5 separate regions of the Homo sapiens genome follow, and all the other regions are reported to be linked to region 4. The links are microRNA targets in miRTarBase. Many come from high-throughput screens and were not tested one by one. Region 4 holds a microRNA gene; each other region holds the end of a gene's coding sequence. Distances are between the middles of the regions.

Region 1 (5,102 bases), 52 Mb from region 4:
AAAGGTCACAGCCTAGAGTCCAAGAGCACGGGCCTGCAAGCTCATCCCTTTCTAGCTGAGCAAGTTATTTCTACAAGCTTCCATTTTCTCATGAGAAAATGGGGCTAAGAGTGCATGCCTCACAGTGGGGGTGAAAGCAGACAGTAACTTACAGCCAAAATGCAGCCCTTGAGGCCCATCAGGGGCCTTGCGCTTGTTTAAAAAAAAAAAAAGTCAAAAAATTAGACAGCCATGGTGGTGTGTGCCTGTGGTCCTAGCTACATGGGAGGCTGAGGCAAGAGGATCACTAGAGCCCAGGAGGTCGAGGCTGCGGCAAATCAAAGGGACCTCAGGGAGACAGCCACTGCCCAGTGTGTGTTGGAGCCGTGGGGAGGGCAGGTGGCTGACTGGATTCCTCCCAACATGACCAGGGCAGAGAGGGCTCTGCAGGCCTCTGGGCCAGAGGTAACTGAGAGCCACCCTCTTCTGCAGGTGTGGTGACTCTGCTGTCTGACTACGAGGTGTGCAAGGAGGGCGATGTGCTGACCCCAGAGCAGGCTCGCGTCCTGGTGAGTCTGGCGCCTTGCGGGCTGTTGCGGGCGGGGTTGCTGGCTTTCCTCTGCCTGCTGAAAATGCCCCCCTGCACTTTGAATACCTTCATTCCTCCTGATTCTTTGTTCCCTTTGTCTCTTGCAGAAGCTTTTTGGGTATGAGATGGCTGAATTCAAGGTGACCATCAAATACATGTGGGATTCACAGTCGGGAAGGTTCCAGCAGATGGGAGACGACTTGCCAGAGAGCGCATCTGAGTCCACAGAAGAGTCAGACTCAGAAGATGATGACTGAAAGGGACTCGGGACTGAAGGTCTCCTGGAAGCTTCTGGGTCTCACTGGACCATCAGGACTGCTGCCGCCCCTCTGGAGAGAGCAGCTTTTTATTTGTCTGTAGACAGGGAACATGATGGGCACTGACCTCCTGTAAAGAATAAAACTGTGGGCCGGGCGCGGTGGCTCACGCCTGGAATCCCAGCACTTTGGGAAGCCGAGGTGGGCAGATCATAAGGTCGGGAGATTAAGACCATCCTGGCTAACACGGTGAAACCCCGTCTCTACTAAAAATAGAAAAAAAAACTAGTTGGGCATAGTGGCATGTGCCTGTAGTCCCAGCTACTCAGGAGGCTGAGGCAGGAGAATCACTTGAACCCGGGAGGTGGAGGTTGCCGTGAGTTGAGATTGGACCACTGCTCTCCAGCCTGGGCAACAGAGTAAAACTCTGTCCCAAAAAAAAAAAAAGAATACAACCTTGCAGGATGTCTCTCCTGGAGACAGCAAGAGGGAGAGGAGGGAGAGGGCTCTTTCTTAGAAAAGAGGCCTTTGGTGAGCCCAGAAGTTTGAAACCAGCCTGGGCAATTCAGCAAGATCCCGTCTCTACAAAAAATAAAAAAAAATTAGTCGTGGTGCCACTTGCCTGTGGTCCCCACTGCTTGGGAGGCTGAGGTGGGAGAATTGCTTAAGCCTGAGAGTTGGAGGCTCAGTGAGCCATGATCATGCCACTGCACTCCAGCCTGGGTGGCCATTGAATTCTGCGTGGATTGCCTCAGTTTGCCTTGTCAGCCAACTTCCACTGGCTGCCTTGGCACTGCCATGACAGCACAGCTCCACACCAGAGCTGGGGTTTCTCTTCAGTCCTGGGTACCCCTTGGCAGAGGGATTTGCTGAGGAAAATTAGGTATCCTTCCTAGCCCTCCACACACTTCCAAACCAGGGCTGCGGATCTGATGGATGCCAGGAAGACAGCCTTGGGCTGAGAGTGACATCACTGCAAGAGTTGAGAGCCAGCGTCTAAAGTGTCCACGGCATCCTGGGAGGTTTTATCCTTGGTGACTCTAATGGTAGATTTTTGTCCACCTTGTTCTATTTGCTTTTGTTTGTTTTTGATTTTTCTGTTTTAAAATTTTAAGGAGAGATGGGGTTTCACCATGTTGCCCAGGCTGGTCTCAAACTCCTGAGCTCAAGCGATCTACCCACCTTGGCCTCCCAAAGTGCTGGGATTATAGGTGTGAGCCACCGCATCCAGCCCACATTGTTCTATTTGTATTTCATGAAAGCAGTTCTGAATGAGAGTAAATCAGCTTCAGGGTGTACAGTGGCCCTCTTTTTTCTGCCATGCATGGAAGAGGGCCACCTCCAGCCCTGCTGTTGGGAGGTCAGGCTGGGTCCCACGGTGTGGGGTGACCTTCACAACGGCATTGTGCCTCTGACACCCTCTCAGTGCCTCTGTTCTTTGGAGACTTCCTACTCCCGCCCACTTCTCACCACGCCCTTGGGAAGGACAGCAGGAAGCAGGCTTCGGGCAGAAGAGGAATTCACCATGTTCACCCAGGCCTAGGCCAGGTCAAGCACCAGCCTCAGCAGGAAGTGCTGAAGGAGAGCTCAGGCCCGGCCCTCTCGCCTTGTGAGGATGACTGGGAAGACTGCACGAGTGTAGGGGAGGATCTGCAAACCGGGCTGAGAGGGGAAAGCAGCCTACAACCATTTAAGGCCAAAACTGGCCAGGGGGAGAGAATGAAGGGTGGCAGGTGGTGCCCTCCGCACCTGAGCCAGGTCTAGCCAGACCTGGAGGAGGTAGTGGGATGGTCAGGTGCCAGGCTTGGTCGGCGGCCTCTGTGACAGCCGAGTCCAGGGTCCCTTTGCTGCTGCCAGTTTCTCCAATTGCTCCATCCAGGATGACCACGTCCCTATGCATGCCCTGTAAGGGAGACAGCTAGACTTCAACACATTTCTGCTGCACAGTGACTAATCATGCCCCTCCCAGCCATGGCCCCGCCGCTAACTGGGCTCTGGTTATTCACGTATGCCTTGCATTACTGCTTGCAAACAGCCATGACCGTTGGGCTTTAAAGCCCTGCCTCCACGCTGTCTCAGCTTTAGACAGCTGACTTCAGAGCCACTCATCTGCTGCTCAGCAGCTGGGTAAACCCAGGTCAGTCACCCAGCCTTTCAGCTTCAGACTTCAGGCCGCTTGTCTGAATTAGAAATTGTGTGAAGCACTTTGCCTGCAGACCAGGCACGTAACGTGCTCACTAAAGGGAAGCCATAACCATATAATACCCAAGCTGGAGAAGGGGGTTAGGGACAGCAGGGAGAGGGAAACCCTGCCACTACACACAGGGTTGGGCTGTCTCCAGGGTGGGCAGCCAAGGAGCCAGGAAAAGCTAATGGTTAAAAATGTAGGTTTCAGACCAGATGCAGTGGCTTGCACCTGTAATCCTAGCAATTTGGAATGCTGAGGTGGGCGGATTGCTTGAGCCCAAAGACTCAAGATCAGCCCAGGCTCAGGCCGGGCACGGTGGCTCATGCCTGTAATCCCAGCCCTTTGGGAGGCCGAGGCAGGCGGATTACGAGGTCAGGAGATGGAGACCATCCTGGCTAACACGGTGAAACCCCGTCTCTACTAAAAATACAAAAAATTAGCTGGGCATGGTGACGGGCGCCTGTAGTCCCAGCTACTCGGGAGGCTGAGGCAGGAGAATGGCTTGAACCTGGGAGGCGGAGCTTGCAGTGAGCCGAGATCACAGCACTACACTCAGCCTGGGTGACAGAGCTAGACTCTGTCTCAAAAAAAAAAAAAAGATCAGCCCAGGCAATGTAGTGAGACCCCTGTCTCTACAAAAAATACAGAAGTTAGTCACATGGTGGTGTATGCCTGTGGTCCCAGCTACATGGGAGACTGAAGCGGAGCATTGCCTGAGCCCTGGAGGTCAAGGCTGCAGTGAACCATGATCAAGCCACTGCACTCCAGCCTGGGTGACAAGAGGAAGACCTTGTCCCCCCAAAAAGAAAAACATTAGTTTCAGTCAAACCCACGTTCGTTCCCTACCATGTGTAGCTGTGGGACCCTACACAAGTGAAATTGCCTCTGAGCCAGTTGCCTCATGTAAAACTGAGATGACCATACTTAACATGGCCATCGCAATAACTAGTGTTGGTTACCTGGCCGCTTAAGTAATTTGTGTAAGAACAGGTTTACCCCACCCAAAAGAACTGGGCCATGGAGAGCCTTCATAGGAAGAAAAGGACTTAACTCCTCTTGGTCAAAGTGACCAAATGACTGCATAGCCCTCGCAGCTTCCCCAGTCTCCCCACCCCCACAGAATTTGAGAGAAGCAGCTGAGCATCTAGAGACAGCTGGGTTACCTGCAGCTTGCGAGTGGTCCATCGCAGGACAGTCAAGGCCATGCCAGGGGCACTGGTGCTATATACACAATCTGCAGGACCTGCTCCACCAGGGCCATGGCCTTGAAGTGGTGCTTGTTCCAGAAGCTGGGTTGGGGGAGGGTATTGCACGGGGGTCAGTACTAGGGGTCATCTCAGGGCGGTTGCCTGCACCCAGGTCCCTGAAGCACTGAGGGGCTAATGGCTTCTAAGTAGACATCTTACATTTTTGAGCATCAGAATGCATGCATGTTTCTGGGCCCCTCATCCGTGTTCTTGGGTGGCTAGAGGGGAGGCAGTGGGCGAGAATCCTTGCATTTGGCCAGGCGTGATGGCCACACCTGTAATCCAAGCCCTTTGGGAGGCCAAGAAGGGAGGATTGCTTGATGCCGGAAGTTAGAAGTCAGCCAAGATAACGTAGGGAGACCTCCTGTCTCTACAAAAAAAAAAAAAAAAAATTAGCCGGGCGTAGTGATGTGCGCCTCTAGTCTCAGCTGCTCTGGAGGCTGAAGCAGGAAGATCACTTGAGTCTGGGAGGTAGAGGCTACAGGGAGTGGTGATCGAGCCCCTGCACTCCATCCTGAACAACAGAGTGAGACCCCATTTCGAAGAAAAAACCCTAGCATTTAACCTCACCAGGTGTTAAACACCCGCCACCTTAGGACCCCTCAGCACCTACAGCACCACACCTGTGTGCCCTGGGGGACACAAGGACCCATGACAAGTCCTGATCTCCAATCCTGGCTCTGCGGCCTTGGCTGAGCCACCTGCCCTCACCTGCTCAGTGAGGAAGGGAAATGCCCCATGCCAGCCCCATGTGCTAAATGCCAAGTATAAAGGTAGTAAGGGGCCTGGCCAGCTTTGCACACTGTAAAGAACAGATGGGATGAAACCCAGCAGGTCTCGAT
Region 2 (5,086 bases), not on the chromosome of region 4:
TCAAGCGATCGAGACCATCCTGGCCAACATGGTGAAACCCCATCTCTACTAAAAATACAAAAATTAGCTGGGCATGGTGGCGTGCGCCTGTAGTCTCAGCTACTCGGGAGAGTGAGGCAGGAGAATTGCTTGAACCCAAGAGGCGGAGGTTGCAGTGAGCCAAGATCGCACCACTGCACTCCAGCCTGGTGACAGAGCGAGACTCTATCAAATAGATAGATAGATAGACAGACAGACAGATAGATGAAAGAGAGAGAGAGGGAGGGAAGGAGGAAAGGAAGGAAGGAGAAGAGAAAAAGAAAAGAAAGTCAGTCTCTGGTTTGGTTGGGTGTTAGGGGTATATGTGGAATATCCCTCGCTGGAGTCTGTCTTTGGGGCTCACTGAAGGAAGATCAGATGGATTGTCATAGCTGGGGACCAAGGGAGGGACACATGAACTCTCCCTAATCCTCTGGAGTCCTCTGAAAGGACAAGGTCTGTCTTCCTTAGCTGGTCTCTGAATTGCAGCCCATCTCAGGATTTCAGGACTGCAGAATTATCGAAGGGTTCCCAGGATATGTGCCTGTTTCCCCTTGTTTGTAGTCCCAAAGAGAGTATCCCAGGTATTTTGTGTCAGAATTGTTTGAAACACTCACTTGACTTAACATTGACCCCTGTTCCTGGGTTGCTCTCCACTGATTTGACATCTTCTGTCTCTTCTGTCCCAGGAACCTATCCGCTTACGGTACAAGCTGACATTCAACCAAGGTGGACAGCCTTTCAGCGAAGTAGGAGAAGTGAAAGACTTCCCAGACCTGGCTGTCTTGGGCGCAGCCTAACTTTTCACAAGATGGACCCTTCATTTCAAGCTTAGGCTGGCGTTACTTTTGCTGTCTAGTCAGGACTAATCACGGTGTTTCAGTGCGGAGTGCCAAGAGTCCTATCCTGACGTCAGGCTCTGGGTGTCAACCTCTGACTTATTCTGCAGATGCTCTGTGTGTGTGTGTGTGTGTGTGTGTGTGTGTGTGTGTGTGTGTGTGTTCGGGGAGAGGGTGGTAGCACAGGGCTTGGGATATCGGCAGTGTGGGAAATGCGAAGCATTTCTCATCATCATCATCTCTGCTACAGTCATGTTTCTGCATGTCAGCGAGCGACACTGTCCCTGCCTCAGGTTGGAGGTTTTATCAGCCAAAGTGTTTTTTTCATGTATCGTTCGTTCCATTCATCCACTCTGTGCCTTGTCAGCCTTTGAAAGGCTTGGTTGCTCCCAGGCTGCTGTTCTCAGGGACCTTAAAAGGGACCTGGTTAGTCTTGGGGCAGAGAGTATCTACTTGGGCACTCTCTTCCAAGAAAGACCTTGTCTCCATTTTCATTAGACAATGCTTCTTGTGTGTGTTCTGGAAGATCTTCTAAATGGAATGCTTGTTGCACTGTTCCCAGGCGAGTGGCTGCCATGAGACCTGAGGACCACACTTGGGGGACCAATCATGTCCTTCACCACTGTGCCTTAGAATCGCCCCTGGACAGAGTTCCTGGGCAGAGGGGAAAGCAGCTCCCAGGCCTTACTCAGGCCTCAGGTCCATGGGTTGGGCAGCCAGTCTGGGCCCTTCTCAGGATCCTCATCTCCATCCTCATCCTCTTCCTTCACAGCATTTACTTGGAGCTCTTTGTGACACACCATGTCAGTCATGATGAATCGGCCAACAGCCAGCCCTTGCCAGCTGACGTCACAGTCTAAGATGGGAAACTGTGGTACAGATAGACATGAAGAGAGCTTAGCAGTGATTGAGGTGGTGACTAAATATACAGTCATTGAATAAATACCATGTAGCAAGTGTACTTTGTGGAGTGTTGAGTAAGTGGAAAATGGAAAGCCAGTTGCATTTAGAGATGATAGGCCTAAAGGGAACTGTCTTCTGTCGAGAAGTAAAGGAAACTTCATGAAGGATGTAGAAGCTTAGCTGCCTCAGAGAAGAGAGAACCTGAAGATCTGAGGCAAGCTGGACAGGAGAGGTGGATATTTGTTGATGGAAGAATTCAAGTTTATAATCAATTCCCACTTAGCACCTACTGTGTGCTAGGAACTTGAATGTGTATGTTTGACAAGTCCTGCTTGGCCTGATGGGTGGGAGAAGGAACCTGAGCCTGGCTGAGATGGCTAGGCGGAGGGCTTTGAAGTCCAAGCAGCTGAACTGGCTGGGTGGGTTTCTACCTTTGAAACTGCAAGACTTGTTTGGAGCTCTTAATTACAATATCTGATATTTTTACAGTCTGATCTTTTGACTTCTACATATAGTGGAAATCTGCCAATACTAATTGGTGGAGATGGGAACTGTAAAAGATCAAGTATGCTAATTTTAAGCAAATGTAAAAACTCATAAAACAGGTAAACAGTGGGGTGATTTCATTTGCCATAATTCACATAAGACGAATTTTAATCTAAAAGTACTTTCTTGCTTGTATTCTGTGTGGCTTTTTTTTGTTTTTTGAGGCCATATCTCACTCTGTCACTCAGGCTGGAGTGCGGTGGTATAATCTCAGCTCACTGCAATCTCTGCCTACCAGGTTCAAGCGATTCTCGTGCCTCAGCCTCTCGAGTAGCTGGGACTACAGGCGTGAGCCAGCACGCCCAGCTAATTTTTGTATTTTTAGTAGAGACAGGATTTCACCATGTTGGCCAGGCTGGTCTCGAACTCCTGACCTCAGGTGATCCGCCTGCCTTGGCCTCCCAGAGTGCTGGGATTACAGGCGTGAGCCACCGCACCCGGCCTCTGTGTAGCTTTTATAGGCTCTGTTACTGTTGCGTAGTCTTGAAGAGGTACCCATCATAATGACAGCATCTCCCTCTGAAGGGTTTTGGTCAAAATGGGTGAATGAGACTTATACATAAAGACAGGCTTTCTCCCCTATAGTTAGGAGGTGAACTCACACATGTGTACCTGAACATTCTTGCTTTTGAGGAGACAGACTCCCAGTGGTACTACTATGCTTAGGTGTTGGACAGGATAGGGGTAGGAGGAGAGGAGGCAGGCTGCTGTCCTGAAAGTGGCTGTGGTTTATGGCATCACTCCCTTCTAATCAGCAAGTCCAGTGGCCACTTAGAGCCCAGCTCCTACCTCTTCATTCACTTAACAAGTAGTTATTGGCTGTGCACAGTGGCTCACGCCTATAATCCCAGCATTTTGGGAGGCTGAGTGGGATGACCGCTTGAGCCCAGGATTTCAAGTCCAGCCTGGGCTACATAGTGAGACCGTGTCTCTGTTTTTTTAAAAGCTAGTTGTTGACCAGCTACCCTGAGCCAGGCACCACCCTGAAGGAGCTTCTTTTCCTCTGGGGAGAAGCAAATTCATGATGTGTGTGCTGGAGATCTGGCACTCATGGCCAGTGCTTTCCAGTATCTTGAACTCTTCGGGGGTCCTGTTGACCCATTTCGTGACCTACCTCCGTGACTGCTCTTTTTCCTCTGTCTCTTAAGTGTGATGGTTTTCCAGAGTCCAATCCTCAGGACTTTCCCGTCCACACACAGGCCTGGTAGTCAGGTGGCTCTAAACCATTAGGTGGGTTGTAGACCTCTCTCAAGCTGCCACCTCCTTGCTGTCGCCAGATCGTATTTCAGTCTGTCAGGGGTTATCTGTATCTGGAGGTTCCACTGTTGCTTCAGTCTCAGTTACTTAGAATGGAACCCAGAGTCCTGCCCCTTTCCACCTACATGCTCTTACTTGAAAGCACCTGAGACTTATTGGGTCCCTGATTCCTGCTTCGTCTGTATCCGCAGAGTAGTTGCATGTCATTTGGCCTGTTTTCTAAATAATCCCACATCATGTCCTCCCTGCACTTACATTGCCACTGCTCTGATTTGGGCTTTTTTTTTTTTGGGACAATGCCTCTGTCCCAATTCTGAGTAACAGCTCTGGTTCTTGCCACTACCAGAGTTCTCTAGCAAATCTGAGCATCTGACAGGGTGAAAAATTCTGAATGGCTTCCTGATGCCTGACTTTATGGGATCAAATTCAAGTTGCACGCTGGCACTCAGTGCCCTTCTGGTATCATCTGCCAAGACCAGGGCCTGCTTCACCACAGCCACAATAAAGTCCTTTCAAGCCCTGATAATGCCATGTTTTGTCCTAACCTTTTGCTGCAGTTAATTACTCTTCCTATTATCTTCCATGAACTTAAGACTGGGCAAAAATGTTTCCTTATCTGTGAGCCACTCTGAACACAAACAGGTCATGAAGATAGTGTTGAAAACAATAAATGACAACCAAAAGAAAAGTGAATATTACCTAGTACAAATAGTGTAAATTGAGACAGAAAATGTTAAAGCTAGAAAGCAAGGGCAATATTCTAGAATACAAATAGTGCTTGCCTACTACAATATTAATCCCAAATCCTTTAAATATACCCATTATAGAAGATGCTTACCCAGCGTCAAGAGTATAAAAGTGGGTTTGTTTGTTTTCTTGAGACAGGGCTTTGCTCTGTTGCCCAGGCTGGAGTGCAGTGGCGTGATTGTAGCTCAATGCAGCCTTGAATTCCTGTGTTCAGGCGATCCTCCGGCTTCAGCCTCTGGAGTAGCTGGGACTACAGGTGCATGCTGCCACGCCCAGCTAATGTTGCAGTTTTTCGTAAAGACTGGATCTCTGTGTTACCCAGGCTGGTCTCCTGGGCTCAAGCAGTCCTCCTGCCTTGACCTCCCAAAGTGCTGGGATTACAGGCATGAGCCACCATGTCCTGACCCCAGTTTGTTTTAAAGCCAAGCGATGCACCAAGATGTTTGTGTGCACATCTGACAGTGGTAATCTTTGGGTCAGGGAATTATAGATAAATTTTCTTTAAATTTTTTCTGAGCTTTCTAAAATCAGCTGAAAATAAAACCTTATTTTTTTATGCTCAGTGTCGTCTTTTTTAAGATAAAGACATTGACATGATTCAAAATTATGAAAGGTGAAAATTCTTCCCACCCAGTTACCATCCTCTGTCTTTTCAGAGGGATTCTAGGCATGTTCAAGAAAATATAGTATACTGTTCTGTGTTTTGTTCTTTTCATGTAACACCATAGATAGCTTGGAGAAAATGCCATTATCAATATGAATTACTTAGAAACATA
Region 3 (5,105 bases), not on the chromosome of region 4:
TACAGCCATTATGGAAAAGTTTGGCATTTTCAAACTGTTAAATTAGAATTATTGGCTAGGCGTGGTGGCTCACGCTTGGAATCCCAGCACTACGGGAGGCCGAGGCAGGCCGATCACTTAAAGTCACGAGTTTGAGATCAGTTGGCCAACATGGCGAAACTTTGTCTCTACTAAAAGTACAAAATTTGGTGAGGCTTGGTGGTGTGTGCCTGTAGTCCCAGCTACTTGGGTGGCTGAGGCAGAAGAACCGCTTGAACCCATGAAACAGAGGTTGCAGTAAGCCAAGATCACGCCACTGCACTCCAGCCTGGGTGACAGAGTAAGACTCTGTCTCAAAAAAAAAAAAACAAAAAAAAAACAAAAACATATAGAAATTATGGTATGATCCAGTAATTCCATTTCTGAATGTATACCTCAAAGAATTGAAAGCAGGGCACAAACAGATACTTGTATACCAATGTTCATTACAGCATATTTCACAATAGCTAAAAGGTGAAAACAACCCAAGTGTCCATTAACAGATAATGGAGAAGCAAACTGTGGTATATATATGCATGGAATATTATTCAATCTTTTTTTTTTTTTTTGAGACAGAGTATCGCTCTGTCACCAGGCTGGAGTGCAGTGGCGCAATCTCGGCTCACTGCAACCACCTCCTCCCAGGTTCAAGCGATTCTCCTGCCTCAGCCTCCTGAGTACCTGGGATTACAGGTGCACACCACCATGCCCAGCTAATTTTTGTATTTTTTTAAGAGACAGGGTTTCATCATGTTGGCCAGGATGGTCTCAATCTCTTGACCTCACGATCCGCCCGCCTTGGCCTCCCAGAGTTTTGGGATTACAGGTGTGAGCCGCTGTGCCCAGCCTATTCAATCTTAAAGAAGAGGAGGCTGAGGTGGGAGGATCGCTTGAACCCAGGAATTTGACACCATCGTGGGAAACAAAACGAGACCCTGTATCCAAATTTGTTTTAAAAAATTAGCTGAGCGTGGTGGAATGCACCTGTAGTCCCAGATACTTGGGAGGCTGAGGTGGGAGGATCCCTGGAGTGTAGAAGTTTGAGGTTGCAGTGAGCTATGATCACACCACTGCATTCCAACCTGGGTGACAGAGGCTGTCTCAAAACAAAAAGGAAGATACATGGTATAACATACATGAGCCTTGAAAATATTACGCTAAGTAAAATAAGCCAGACACAGAAGGACAAATATTACACAATTCCACTTAAATGAGGTACCTAGAATAGGTAAATTCATAGAGACAGAAAGTAGAATACAGGTTACCAAGAGCTGAGGGAGTGGGGGTCGGGGAATGAGACATTATTGTTTTATAGGTACAGAGTTTTAGTTCGGGATGATGAGAAAGTTCTGGAAATTGATAGTGGTGATGGTTGCACAACATTGTGAACATTGCACAACATTGTGAAAATACTTAATGCCACTAAATTACACACTTAAAAATAGCTATAATGGGCCACACATGGTGGCTTATGCTTGTAATCCCAGCACTTTGGGAGGCTGAGGCAGGTGGACTGCTTGAAGTCAGGAGTTTGAGTCCAGCCTGGGCAATATGGTGAAACCCTGTCTCTATGAACAACAACAACAAAAAAGCTAAAATGGTAAATTTTATGTTATGTGTGTGTATATATATACATACATATATATATATATATATATATATATATATATATATATATATATATATGTATAGGTTTTTTTTTTTGAGACAGTCTCGCTCTGTCGCCCAGGCTGGAGTGCAATAGCATGATACTGACTCACTACAACCTCTGCCTCCTGGGTTCAAGAGATTCTCCTGCCTCAGCCTCTGGAGTAGCTGGGATTACAGGTGCCTGCCACCACGCCCAGCTAATTTTTGTATTTTTAGTAGAGACAAAGTTTCACCACATTGGCCAGACTGCTCTCAAACTCGTGACCTCAAGTGATCCGCCAGCCTCGGCCTCCCAAAGTGTTGGGAGTACAGGCATGAGCCACTGCGCCCAGCCATGTTATGTATATTTTACCTCAATTTTAAAAATGTGCTAGATACATAGGAAATAGAATAAGACATACGATATGTAAACTTAAAATATGTGTCTATAAAACAATATTTGTATTGTAAGAACATACAAATAAATTATTAGAATTAATGAGAACTCAAATTCTAAAACTGACCTAATGATGCAATACCGTTTCAATCAATATCCTAACAGTGTCATTTTATGGAGCAAGCTGATTCTAAATTTTATATGGAAATGCAAAAGTTCAAACATAGCTAATATTCTTGAAGAAAACAAGACGAAAGCATTTGATCTATTAGGTATTAAGATATAAAATAATAATAATGTAATAAAATTATCATAATTAAGATGGTGCAATTAAGGCATCATAACTAAGATAATACAAGGAATGACAATTAAACTAATAGAACATAGTAGCCCAGAAACAGACCTACATGTACATAGTTTATTTACAATAAAAATGGCATTGAATAGGAGTGAAAAAATTATGGTCTTTTCAATAACTAATGGTGGGACAACTTGATAGCCATTTAGAAAAAAAAAAGAAACTTCCTCACTACTGAGTAACAACATAAATTCTGGATCTATATCTCGAAACTAAAGTAACAAAGGTTTGAGAGGTAATATATGGGAGATAAAAAATATCTCCTTGCTTACGAGGACAACATATGGGCAGTATCTCTCAGTAATGCCCATATATTATAGTGTCTTCTTACACAGTAGATAAAAAAATAGGAAATACTAATCAGTTTAACCATATTAAAATTAAGACTGTTGATTTCCTAAGTTTACCAAACCTAAGCTATTCACAACCCTTTCTCAGTCTCTACTAGTTCCCTATTTTGACTCATTTTAAACCAGTTGGACCCTTATCTCAAATCCTTATAAATACCTTACTCTAACATCCTCCCTTTGAATCATTACCAAGACTCTGTGTCAAGTTGATGGTCTCCTTTGCTACACTACAATAGGTTTAATGAGCTTTGTTTAGTCAACAGGTTTCCTTAGTGACCTTTGTTGGGGGGGAGTAGACAATTGACAGTCCTTATCTTTTTGAGAAATATACTGAAATCTTTAAAAAAATTTTTTTTGGTAGAGATGGGGTCTTGCTATGTTGCCCAGGCTGGTTTTGAACTCCCAGCCTCAAGCTATCCTCCTGCCTCAGCCTCCCAAAGTGCTGGGATTAGGTGTGAGCCACTGTGCCCAGCCAGTATACCAAGATTTTTTTTTTCTTTTTCTTTTCTTTTTTTTTTTTGAGACGGAGTTTCGCTCTTGTCGCCCAGGCTGGAGAGCAATGGCACCGTCTCAGCTCACTGCAACCTCTGCTTCCTGGGTTCAAGCAATTCTCCTGCCTCAGCCTCCCAAGTAGCTGGGATTACAGGCGCCCGCCACCAAGACCAGCTAATTTTTGTATTTTTAGAAGAGATGGAGTTTCACCACATTGGCCAGGCTGGTCTTGGACTCCTGACCTCAGGTGATCCACCCACCTCAGCCTCCCAAAGTGCTGGGATTACAGGCATGAGCCACCGCACCCAGCCCACCAAGATTTTTATAGATTAAATTCTATTTCTAAGATCTGCTCCAAAATTAATTCAATAAGACAAAGTAGAAGTAGGTAAGATTAGTCATAAATAGTTGATGCTGGGTAATGATACATGGGAGTTCATTAGACTAGCCTGTCTACTTTTGTTTTACGTAAAATTCTCCATAATAATTTTAAAAAGTTACGTTTGTTTTTGTAGTCCTCAAGAGGGGATGTTCACTAAGGTCACAGCAAAGTTGCACTATACGACTCTGGCTTATACCCAGAAAGCATCTAGCCAAACCTAGCCTAAGTTATGCTAGATTCTGAGGTCTTGCTACGACAGAAGGAAGGGAAGACCACAGTGGTTGTAGACTTCAGAGAAATAATTCTTTTTTTTTTTTTTTTTTTGAGACAGAGTCTCGCTCTGTCACCCAGGCTAAAGTGCAGTGGCATGATCTCAGCTCACCACAACCTCCACTTCTCAGGTTCAAGCGATTCCCCTGCCTCAGCCTCCTGAGTAGCTGGGATTACAGGCGTGAGCCACCATGCTCAGCTAATTTTTGTGTTTTTAGTAGAGACAGTGTTTCACCATGTTGGTCAGGCTGGTCTCGAACTCCTGACCTCACGTGATCCACCTGCCTCGGCCTCCCAAAGTGCTGGGATTACAGGCATGAGCCACCGTGCCTGGCCTAAAATAATTCTTTTTAAGGCCCTTCTACAACACCCCAAATGTAGAACTGAGTTGCTGTATTAAATTTGACATTTAAATCTTGGTTAAAACAACAACAAAAAAAGGGATAAAGAATATTTACTGTGTTTTTTGCTTTATTTATTCAGAGAGTGAAACTGTGTTACAGTGAGCTAAATTTTTAGCTGTACTTAGAATGTGCTCCCTCCTACATTTCACTCTGGAAAAGTGAAGTATCTTATCATTTCTTAGAAACCTGGATGTGAAACTAGTCAATATTAAGATCTTATACACATCCTGAGTGATGCCCAATTTAAGGCTTTGAATAGCTATTCATGTAAGTTGACTTTTCTGTGCATTTGTATCGGGGAGGATCCAGTTCAGGTTGATGTCCTGGGAACCAGTGAGGCTCTCGCTTAAATCCTGAGGGAAGAAAAAAAAAGGAAGGAAAGACAAATGAAAACAGTCAACACTAAGGAGTTTTAGTAACTGATCTTGCTCTTATTTCTAGGGAATAGACAGTAAGTCCTGTTAAAATTGAAGAAAAAATCCTGTTTACTCATTCATGTAGTTATTCACCTTTTTTTTCTTTTTTTTTTTTGAGATAGAGTCTCACTCTGTCACCCAGGCAGGAGTGCAGTGGCTTGATTTCTGCTCACTGAAACCTCCACCTCTCGGGTTCAGGTGATTCTCCTGCCTCAGCCTCCTGAGTAGCTGGGACTACAGGCATGCGCCACCAAGCCCAGCTAATTTTTGTATTTTTTTTAGTAGAGATGGGGTTTCACCACGCTGGCCAGGCTGGTCTCAAACTCCTGACCTCAAGTGATCTGCCTGCCTCAGCCTCACAAAGTGCTGGGGTTACAGGTGTGAGCCAC
Region 4 (5,088 bases):
ATCCCACTTCTCTCCTTGTAGACATCACAAGATTCTTTTGCATTAAATGTGGAGCAAAAAAGTAAAGCTGGATAAAAGAGACACAATGATTCTAAGGCACCCTTAGCATAGGGAATTTCAAAATAGACATTTACAGTTGGCTGCTTACAACATAGTTTAACTTTTTTTGGTGAGAATCACTCTGACATCTGTTAACAGCATAAAAAGGCTGACTTTCTTTTCCATAAGTATGTTGTTTCCAACTAGTTTCCAGTCTTTCTTCCATGCCCAAAGTTCAGGCAAGCCTAGGTAATCCTGTCTTAGCCAATGGACAGGATGTATTTGGAAATGACAAAAATGGGTTTAAATTAGGAAGCAAAGTACTTTGTTATAGCTGAAATGGTTTTAAATGAAGCAAATGGTTGTAAATAATGAATGACAGAACATCTATTTTGGGACATTATGGCTTAAAATGCTATTTACTTTTAACTTCACAAATAAACACAGCTGTATTGTTTTGAAAAGCAATGAAAGGCATGCACCTCTACTAGCAGATTTAGCACTTCTGACCAAGTAAGACACCAACTTCTTTAAAAATATGCTTCATGCACTGTACTGGATTTTTTTAAGATGTAAATTTTAATACATTATTTCTTTTTTGAACTTGAACGGGAACCAGAATGGGATGATCCAGATGATGACCTGTGGCGTCTGTAAGACATAATGGAGAGAGTAGGCATTCTAGTAAGCTAGAGCTAAATCTCAGCATTCATTCTTAAGACTGTGAAAGTATACAAAATTCAGTACCATGATGCTAGCAAAAAAATTAAAAATTGAGATAGGAACTTACACACATAAAATTATCTGATGTTTAGACTTTGGATATGAGCCCAGTTATCATATAAATACAATAAAAAATTCTCTACAATTTCAAAAGAATCTCATTTCAAAATATAGCCACCTCTCAATTATTTAAGATATCAAAGAAAAGCCTTGCAAAAATGTGTAAAATTACAGAAAATGTACAACAAAAGCATATAAACTTGGTAATGGAAGTGTGACTAAACCAATCCCTGTGACACGGTGTAGAAAGTGTAAGAAGTCTATTATGTAAAAAAGATACAGCAAGGCTTCTGTGTATGAGAAAATATACTCATAAATAAGTTTTGGAAATCTAGGTCACACAAGATGATTGTACAATTTGCTATAGGGTTATATTCATGCAGCTAGTATGAATAAGTCAATATCAACCTGGGTAAAGTAGTGGTGTTCCGTAGGGGTTGGCCCTGGGCTCAGGGTTGTTTAGTGTTTTCACCAATCACCTGGCTTATGGAATAGAGAACATGTTCATTAAGTTTAGATGACAACAAACTAGGGGGATTATATGTGGCTAAGATAAAAATTTGCAGAAGTGGTAAGAAAGCAACAGAATGAATTCCACTCAAAAACAGAGTAATTTTTTTTACAAAGAAACAAATGCAGAGAAACAAGACTGTGTGAAATCTTAACATCTAAACTCCAAAATGTGAAGAAGCAAAACTAATCATTCTGTACAAGTAGGAATCATGAGATAATCCTACCACTGAACCCAGCAATTAATAGACTTTACATAATCTTTATTTTCACAAGCTAATAAAATATGAAAAATTTGCAAAGACTACAAATAAAGCCATTAAAATGACTATATAATTGGGAACAAAGAGAAAATTAATGAAACTGAGTAATTAGCCTGTTGCAGAAAAGGCTGACAGATGACAGTTGCATTCTTCCAATATTAAAAGTGTCAGTACAGATAAAGTAACCTAATATAGGCCTTTCTCAAAAAAGATTTGGACTGCAAAATGAAAAATGTATTAGCTACAAGGAATAATTTCCTTATAGACAAAGGGCATGAAGCAATTTGCTGTGGAAATGCATTTACACATATTTAAATGAGGACAGATTCCCAATGATCTGAAAGTTAATTTTTTATTAGATGCTCTAGAATTCTTGACTATTAGTATTTAAAGAAGCCTAAGTATAAAAGTCAACTCATAAATTACTTCGACATACAGCTTCTGAATTGCAATCTCAAAAGACAGAAATAACCGAGAGTTGGCTATAAAAATTATAAATGGAACTAAAAATTTAAACAATAAAATGATCAAAGAATGGTTTGATCTACAATTCTAAACAACCTGATCAAAGTACAAAGGATAAGCAAAGTAATGTTTTTTTGAAGTTCAAAGTTGAAAAGTAGAAAGTCGGAACACAAGAGATAATAAAAATCTAACCCTTGACTAGGAAAGTTTACTTTATCTATTAAACACACTTAAGAACACCCATTCTTATTTCTACAGAAACCCAAACCTTTCGGGTGACCGTGATCTTGTTCGTCTTTTTTTGCGATCACCAGATGAAGAAGATCTAGAACGACTTCTCTTTCTGTTCCTCTCAGGAGAAGATGATGAACTTGAATAAGATCTTTTTCGTGGGGAAGAAGAGCCCCTGTGGGACCTGGAGCTGGATCTTCATTGATTGAGAAACAAATCAAACATTTCATTAAAAGAAGAAATAAGGAAGATTATTTAGTTATCAGATAGCTCCAAAAATAAACAGGATTTATAACAACTATGAAAATTTTATAAGGAAGAATACTTACTGCTTATTCAACAGAAGACTTCTGGATCAACCATGAAAACATTCTACTTAAACATTTTAATTTTGTCTCTTTAAAATTCTATCATGTGTAATTAAAACCCTGCTTACTATATCAAAATAGAATTTAAACTTTTTTTAAGGCTTTTCAAAGTATACACAAATATTATAGTATTATAAAATCAGCAGATAACTGCATTAACAGGACTTTACGTTTAGGAACTACATCCTTCCATTTGAGGATTAAAATATGTATCTTATATACCACTTCCTGAGGAAAATAAACATAATTCCATGTGGAATTATTCAACTCATTAAACTGTTATGGAAAAACCAGGTATATGGCACAGCAACAAAAGACTAGTAACTGTACTTAACTGCTAAATATTCAAGAAGAAATAAAAACTAACTTTAAGATGATTTATATTTACAATACTATTTTTATGAAAACCCACTACTTATGAAATATGAAGTGTTGACATTCACATGCTTCAGGTAGAAGTAAATGTGCAAATGTTTAAATACAAATTTTTTTTCTTCACTTGTATATTTTGGTTGAAGGAATTTAGCTCAAACTTCCCAAAAAATTCACCTTTGGGCTTAAAATAAAACCAGAAAGCCCAAAAGGAGAATTCTTTGGAAAGTTACAAGCAATGAAAAAATGTTTGGGAAGAATATGATGGGTGTTCTGTAAACCTTAATTATAATGGTTCCCAAAGGGAATACCAGAACTTAAGGATTTTTACCTATAAAGCGCTTAAATATTGTTACTAAATAATGGTAACAATAAAAAATAATTTGCTCTCTACTTCTATTTTTTTTTTTTTTTTTGAGACAGGATCTTGCTCTGTTCCCCAGGCTGTGGTGCAGTAGCATAAGCATGGCTCACTGCACCCTTAATCTCCAGGGCTCCAGTGATCCTTCCACCTCAGCCTATAAGAACACACCACCATGCCTGGCTGGTTGTTTTAATTTTTATTTTTAGTAGACGAGGTCTCACTATATTGCCCAGGCTGGTCTTGAACTCCTGGGCTCAAGCAGCCCGCCCACCTTGGCCTCCCAAGGTATTGGGATTACAGGCGTGAGCCACTGAGCCTGGCCTTGTTATCTATTTCTTATTGGCTTATAATGCAAGTGTGCACAACATTCTTTTCTCCTTAACATGATTATACTGTGGCAGCCCTTTAATGCTAAATTTGATTCAAAGCAGCAAATACTTTTACCAAAACAGCCACAGTTAGACTTCAATATGAATTTCCACAAATATGGAATTTCATTTTCTTATTTATTTTTTAGATGCCTTTAGGTCATAATAAATTAACTTAAAAACAAAGAGAGCATATTTTGACTAAACAAAGAAAAATTTCCTGCAAGAGCATCTTTCAAATTATGTTTCCCTCTACAGATGTGACTACATGCAACCTGAAACTTTAGAACACTGTTTACTACTTAAGACCACATCCTATCTCAACTAACCGACTATACTTCCTGATTTAGTTTTGAGTGTTTTGTGCTCTATAAATAATAGCGTGTGTAAAATTAGAAAGGAAAATGTATATACAGTACTCTAGTAACTTTATCTGATATAAATGGCAAATTTGTTTCTGAAAATATTGAAACAACTGCCGTGCAAAACAGGACCTGTTTTGAGGCAGGGTTATTTTTCTTCCTTTTAATAATGAAGAAAATTTTTCTTTTTATTTACATATGTAATTTTATTTGAACTACTATTAATTTTTTTTTTTTTTGAGACACTCCTCTGTCACCCAGGCTGGATTACAGTGCTGTGATCAAGGTTCACTACAACCTTGAACTCCTGGCCTCAAGTGATCCTCCCACCTCAGCTTCCCAAAGTGCTGGGATTATAGGCATGAATCACTGTGCCTGGCCATATATAATCTTAATATACTAGAGATGTGGCGATAAGACTTGGCTTCATCTTCCTACTTCATAACATCTTAGTGCCAAAATAATAAACGCTGCATATTGCAAAATAGCCACCTGATTTCAATCATGGGAATGTCTTGGCACACTGCTGGCAATGGAAACATTTCATGGTGAGAAAATTAAGCTGAGGCAAGTGCATTAGTTTTCTAATGCTAAAATAAAATCGACAAGTAGAAGCAAAATAAGGGGAAAAAAAGCAGCAACACCTTCTGCAGCCTTTAAATATTTTTCTCTCTGCTTTACAGAGAGATGCTACCTCATTCACCTTGATTTCGACCCACGAGATCTCGAACGTTCTCTGGAACTGGAACGAGATCTTGACTGCGAACTGGAAGAACTTCTTGAACGGGACCTGGAACAACATGGAACGATTTTTTTTTTCCAGGACCATTTAATTGAGCTTTGTGATATGAACACTGAAAGAAAGATATGTATTAGAGTTCATTTTCATATAAAAAGATAACTATACAAGATATATACTTTCAAAACATAGTATTTTAAATTAGATAAGATTTAGTAACAAAA
Region 5 (5,105 bases), not on the chromosome of region 4:
GCCGTGCCCCGAGTGGGAGGACTTCTTGGGAAGTATATCGATAGACTTATTCAGCTTGAGTGGCTGCAAGTCCAGACTGTACAGTGTGAAAAAGCAAAGGGGGGCAAAGCAAGGCCCCCCACTGCCCCTGGGACCTCAGGGGCACTGAAAAGCCCTGGGAGAAGTAAGCTAATTGCTAGTGCTCTGTCCAAGCCACTACCTCACCAGGAAGGGGCTTCAAAGTCAGGCCCTTCCCGAAAGAAAGCTTTTCACCATGAAGAAATCCACCCATCACATTATGCATTTGAGACTTCCCCTAGACCCATTGATGTGCTTGGTGGTACCAGGTTTTGTTCTCAGAGGCAAACCCTTGAAATGAGGACAGAAGAAAAGAAAAAGAAATCAAGTAAGAGTACGAAGCTGCAGCGCTGGGATCTGTCCGGCAGTGGAAGCAGCTCTAAGGTGGAAACCAGCGGTCACATTCGAGTTCCCAAACAGGCAGCTGTGATTCTGGACTCAGCAGATTCCTGTAAGGCCTCCAAAACACAAGCACATGCACATCCTAGGAAAAAGGGAAAGGCAGAGAGCTGTGGTCATGCCACTGTATCGAGTGAGAAAAAACTGAAAACAAACGGAGTAAAGCAAAACACATATAAACTAAAATAAATATCTAAAATGCTGAATTGCCAAGACCTGCAGGTACCTCAATGTTAGAGCGCTTCCAAAAGTCAAAATACTGTGAATTTTAAGGAATTTTACAAATACTGACATTTAAGTAGTTGACTGGCATTTTTGTCCACCTTTATTTCTACCCTGAGTGGGGTTATTTTCAAAGGGAAGTGTCTTTCAATAAGCCTTTCTTTGTATTGTCAGTCTTAGGCAAATGAGAGCCCTTTAGATAAAAATTATGTAAAATATGTGCCATATAAAGGAATAAAATGGCACCTCTCCAGGGAAAGTGTCAGTGAAACCTCAGCTACAGTAGCCGGTCTGTGTAGAGCAGCTAGTGGTGTTACCTCCCCATTTTCACATGCACGTAAGTATATGAAATAGTGCAGACTGTTTCAAATGGTGTGGAATCCTAAATGTTTAAAATAAGGTCCTTCTTGCCCACTCCCTCGCTTACTTTTTTATAAACTCCTCAAGCAAAATTTCTGTTCATTTTACCCTTAGGAGAAGCTTTAGTTCTTCCTCAAGTCAGGGAGTAGTGAGTTTGTATTTTGAGTAGTCATTTCTCACTAAGCTGGTTGCTTTCTAGAGAGACAGTGGAATCTAGTACTTTAATACATTTTCTCTGACATGGTTTTTTTTTTCTTTTTTGAGGGGCATTTTAAACTTAGAGGTGGTGGTAAAACCTACTTTTGAGTTCTCCGAACTGAGGTTAAAATAACTTGCAGAATTTTCCAAAGTCAATGGGCTTAGCATGATTACTGCTGTTTGGTGGGGCTGAGAATGAAATATTTGACATTCTGGAATTGCTGGCATGTAAAGCTTCTCCAGAGAGGCACCCCAGGGAAATCACTCTTTACAATTTGTAAAGGAAGGGCCTGTAAAAGGATCAAAACACATGGACCTACATTCAGTGTAATAGTTACAAAGTTACTGATTTGGGTTCCACACCCTGTGGTCCTTAGTCAAAAATAATGATCTGTTTCAGTTTGCAAGAGCAGGATTTTATTATTTTGCTTGGGGTGAGGGGCGGGAGAGTGGAATATGAGTAAGGTTGCTGAATGAATTCTAAACTCGCTTATCTGGTCTTCAGGCTTCCCAACTCTCTCCAAGCCTTCTTATTTCACTGCAGTTAAATAACATCTTCTTGTTCCTATAGTTGTGCTGTGAGTTTTCTGTTCATATTTGCGCAGTGTATTTTAATACGGCCCATGTCATTATAGTTGATTTTATCCCTTTAAACAATTACTGTATTTGTTTTTGACGTAGAGGTTTCAATTTTTTCACCTTGGGGGCAAATGAAAAACTTGGCATTTTTCATTTGGGAACATATAATAGCTTGTAAACTTTTCAGACAGCAGTAAATGTCTGAAAAAATATCAAAAACAGCATAAAGACAAGATTATGTAGCTCTAATTATACGTATATAATTATAAAAAACAATGTGCAAGGGTTATATTTTAAGGTCTTTTAAAATCTGATTTTGATCATACCAAATGACATAATATTTTTTATGGTAGCCTTTTACTTTCAAGACTTAATTTTCAGACTTGTACAAGTTCCTTCTTACATTCTTTCCCTCTCACACCATCCTACTGGAGAAAGCATACTTTTATGCTAAGATCTTACTTTAAGCTTTTTATGTGAACAAAAGATGTACATATAGTAAGTATTACTTCCGTAGTCCTCAAATTTACTATAACTTTTGTACTTAGTATATGTTTTATATTTGGAAAACAGCACTACGCTTAGTTTTCCTGTAGTTCCTGAGTGATGTCTGTGTGTTCCTTGCCTGCCCTTTTTTGTGAGCACAGATTAGTCTGTTATCCATGGCTGGCACTTCACTTATGATCCTTTCTCTGCTAGATTTTTATGCAGCTCTCTATGAAGTTTCATGGCCCATAGATATTCAAAAGCAAGATATTCTATACATATGTGTATATGTATATATACTCCTTATGTTAATACTAAAGTGTTTATGCTGAGTTGCTGCCTTTCCCCGTCATGTATCCATGTGCATGCTCTTAGAGACCTTGAATGGTTGAGGGTAAAGTGATTTATTAGTAATTCTACTTGCCTTGTGTATGTCTGAGCTGAAAACAATCGTGATTAAGAAATTTAGAGGTGGCTGGGCGTGGTGGCTCACGCCTGTAATCCCAGCACTTTGGGAGGCCGAGGCAGGCGGATCACCTGAGGTCGGGAGTTCAAGACCAGCCTGACCAACATGGAGAAACCCTGTCTCCACTAAAAATACAAAATTAGCCGGGTGTGGTGGTGCATGCCTGTAATCCCAGCTACTCGGAAGTTTGAGACGAGAATCTCTTGAACCCGGGAGGCGGAGGTTGTGGTGAGCCAAGATCGTGCCATTGCACTCCAGCCTGGGCAACAAGAGGGAAACTCCGTTTCAAAAAAAAAAGAAAAAGAAAGAAATTGAGAAGTAACGCCTCATAATATTTGTTCCCAGCTTTTTAAATTGAAGCTGGTTGCATAATCTGGGGAATAGTCATAATTTCATGTGTTATACAGTTTAAAAAGCCTGCAAAAGTGACTTTGCTTGTTTACTTTCTGCCTCAGATTGACTATTTTAACCAATATTGTCACGACTAGATCATAGCTCCTAGTGAATAACATGAGGTGTTTTAAAGTTAGGTCTATTACAGAATTAACATAAGCACAATTTTAATTTTATGATATCTGATATGCCTATCTAATACATCTTAATGCATTAAATGCTGCAGATAAGAATCTTGCTATTTTTCAAGTAGACAACATTAGAAAGTTGAATCATGAACTCATTCAATTCATCAAGTCAAAAGCACTGAGTGTTTTGCTAGTCTAGTGACATGGGTTATTGTATTTCCGAGAAGTGCCTCTCATTTCTGGGGAGTTGTTTACATATACCCTGCATTTAAACCAATTAAAACAATCCAAGTTTCTTTAAAAAAAAAAAGAAAAAGAAAAAGAAAAAGAAAAATATTTTAGGCTTAGAATTATCTAATGGAAAAAATGTAAAAAAGTACAAAAATGAACTAAAAGTATATCAGTATTTGCAGTATTTGCTGTGATTACTTAGGTTTAGACTTTCTCAACTTCTTAGATGACTAAATGGGCTGAAGACTTGTAACTAACTTGAATAGGATAGACTTCATACCCTGTGACAAAAAGGATGGGGAAGAGAATATCATTGGTCTTGCCATATACCTCCTAGCTAAAAGGAAAATGGTTTGTAGTTGTTCTTGGGCCTACTGTGTTGCTTTTCAGAAGGACATAAGACTTTCTACTTTATCTGATATGGATATCGTCTACTTCCTCATTCCTTTATGCTCACTTATGGAGTAGTTACATAGAAATATAACTCTTGGTGGTACTGTATTTTAAGGTAATTCAGAAGCAGTATGTATTATTTATGTACATGTACAGGACACCATTCAAAATGGCTTGAAAATATTCAGCATGTTTGTTATTTGCTGTTATATTGTATGTTTAGTTTTGTATGTGATAAACAGAATTGATGTAAGTTTTTGTGGACTTGAATTTCTCCTTCCTTGAGATCAATTAAACAGCAGAAAAATATTGTCTGGATTTTTCTGGTATTGTTTTGTTTTGCTTTTCATGCAGTTCTCTTCTGAAGCTTGCCTTTATTTTCTCCCTGGTTATTTAAAGGAATTGCCCAGGATGAAATGCTGTTACAACTCCTGTCTTAACACTAAGCGACATGGGTGGCCAAAGCACAGGTTAACATTACCGGATATATCAGAGAAGCATTGCAGTACATTTCTTGAGTCGCTCTTCCACTTACTACTCCATGTTGAGGATTAATTAGGGTAGCAGGATGCAAATTCAGTAAGCATAAATTAAGGTAACCTGTGATGTAATGAACTTGCACCTTTATGTACATATCCGGAAACGAGTACCATCTCTTTCAAGGAAGTGGCCTGGTTAGGAGATAGCAGTTTTGAGCAGCTCCAGCTGCAAACATTCTCAAAAGCCCTTTGCTCTTCTTTCTAACTTCACTCTGACAATAGGGTGCATTCTTTTGAGTCTACCAAATTGTGGCAGTAATGTTCAGTGGCTTAAAAAGTAAGTTTTTGGATATGTTTTGAAAATTAACCACGCTGGAGGTTTAAAATCTTTTTTTTTTTTTTTTTTGTACAGGAAATGTATTATTTTGGGCTGTTGCTGTTTTATTATCCACAAGGTGGCGACCAAACCCTTTCAGATAGCAGTGAATTTGGCCTGTGAGTACCTTCTAGTCAAATAAAAAGGTTTTTACTGGAATCAAAAAGAAATGGAGAGAAAAAGACTTTTTGACTTCAGGCCCAAAGCATGTTCTTTATTTAACTTCACTCTGCCATCAGAGAATACAGTGGTTTATCATATGCAGTTAGGTGCTGTGGAGGATTCTCTTTGATTCATTGAACAGTCTCACATCATAAAACACTGTATCCAGCATAGAA

Evidence for each region. Region 4 holds the annotated microRNA hsa-miR-186-3p (GCCCAAAGGUGAAUUUUUUGGG, at 3,195-3,216, opposite strand). A microRNA usually pairs through its seed, bases 2 to 8, with sites in the 3' UTR of a target mRNA and lowers its output. Matches are read on the target gene's strand: a 7mer-m8 pairs with bases 2 to 8, a 7mer-A1 pairs with bases 2 to 7 and ends in A, and an 8mer does both.
Region 1: miRTarBase lists MRTO4 as a target of hsa-miR-186-3p. Seed matches in the 3' UTR shown: 8mer at 1,012-1,019.
Region 2: miRTarBase lists GGA2 as a target of hsa-miR-186-3p. Seed matches in the 3' UTR shown: 7mer-A1 at 3,161-3,167, 7mer-A1 at 3,851-3,857 and 7mer-m8 at 4,780-4,786.
Region 3: the mRNA of CFAP68 is a reported target of hsa-miR-186-3p. Seed matches in the 3' UTR shown: 8mer at 4,189-4,196, 8mer at 3,512-3,519 and 8mer at 3,185-3,192.
Region 5: the mRNA of FAM217B is a reported target of hsa-miR-186-3p. Seed matches in the 3' UTR shown: 7mer-A1 at 1,969-1,975 and 8mer at 2,811-2,818.

What each region holds. Positions count from the first base shown.
Region 1 is chr1:19,258,006-19,263,107 of GRCh38, forward strand. It overlaps MRTO4 (MRT4 homolog, ribosome maturation factor), which reads left to right. Exons shown (of 8, transcript NM_016183.4): 7 at 472-548; 8 at 676-2,123. The coding sequence ends at 825. Among named protein-coding and RNA genes, the nearest start is that of MRTO4, 8.8 kb to the left of the region's middle.
Region 2 is chr16:23,463,322-23,468,407 of GRCh38, reverse strand. GGA2 (golgi associated, gamma adaptin ear containing, ARF binding protein 2) reads left to right here. Exons shown (of 17, transcript NM_015044.4): 17 at 708-4,866. The coding sequence ends at 818. Among named protein-coding and RNA genes, the nearest start is that of COG7, 13 kb to the right of the region's middle.
Region 3 is chr11:111,883,319-111,888,423 of GRCh38, reverse strand. It overlaps CFAP68 (cilia and flagella associated protein 68), which reads right to left. Exons shown (of 4, transcript NM_022761.3): 4 at 2,449-4,653. The coding sequence ends at 4,544. Among named protein-coding and RNA genes, the nearest start is that of CFAP68, 6.3 kb to the right of the region's middle.
Region 4 is chr1:71,064,448-71,069,535 of GRCh38, forward strand. It overlaps MIR186 (microRNA 186), which reads right to left and starts at 3,269; the gene lies at 3,184-3,269. ZRANB2 (zinc finger RANBP2-type containing 2) reads right to left here. Exons shown (of 10, transcript NM_203350.3): 8 at 4,829-4,915; 9 at 2,329-2,487; 10 at 1-690. The coding sequence ends at 627. ZRANB2-AS1 (ZRANB2 antisense RNA 1) reads left to right here. Exons shown (of 3, transcript NR_038420.1): 3 at 2,319-2,737. RefSeq lists a silencer at 4,056-4,105.
Region 5 is chr20:59,944,451-59,949,555 of GRCh38, forward strand. FAM217B (family with sequence similarity 217 member B) reads left to right here. Exons shown (of 4, transcript NM_022106.3): 4 at 1-4,230. The coding sequence ends at 645. Among named protein-coding and RNA genes, the nearest start is that of FAM217B, 6.6 kb to the left of the region's middle.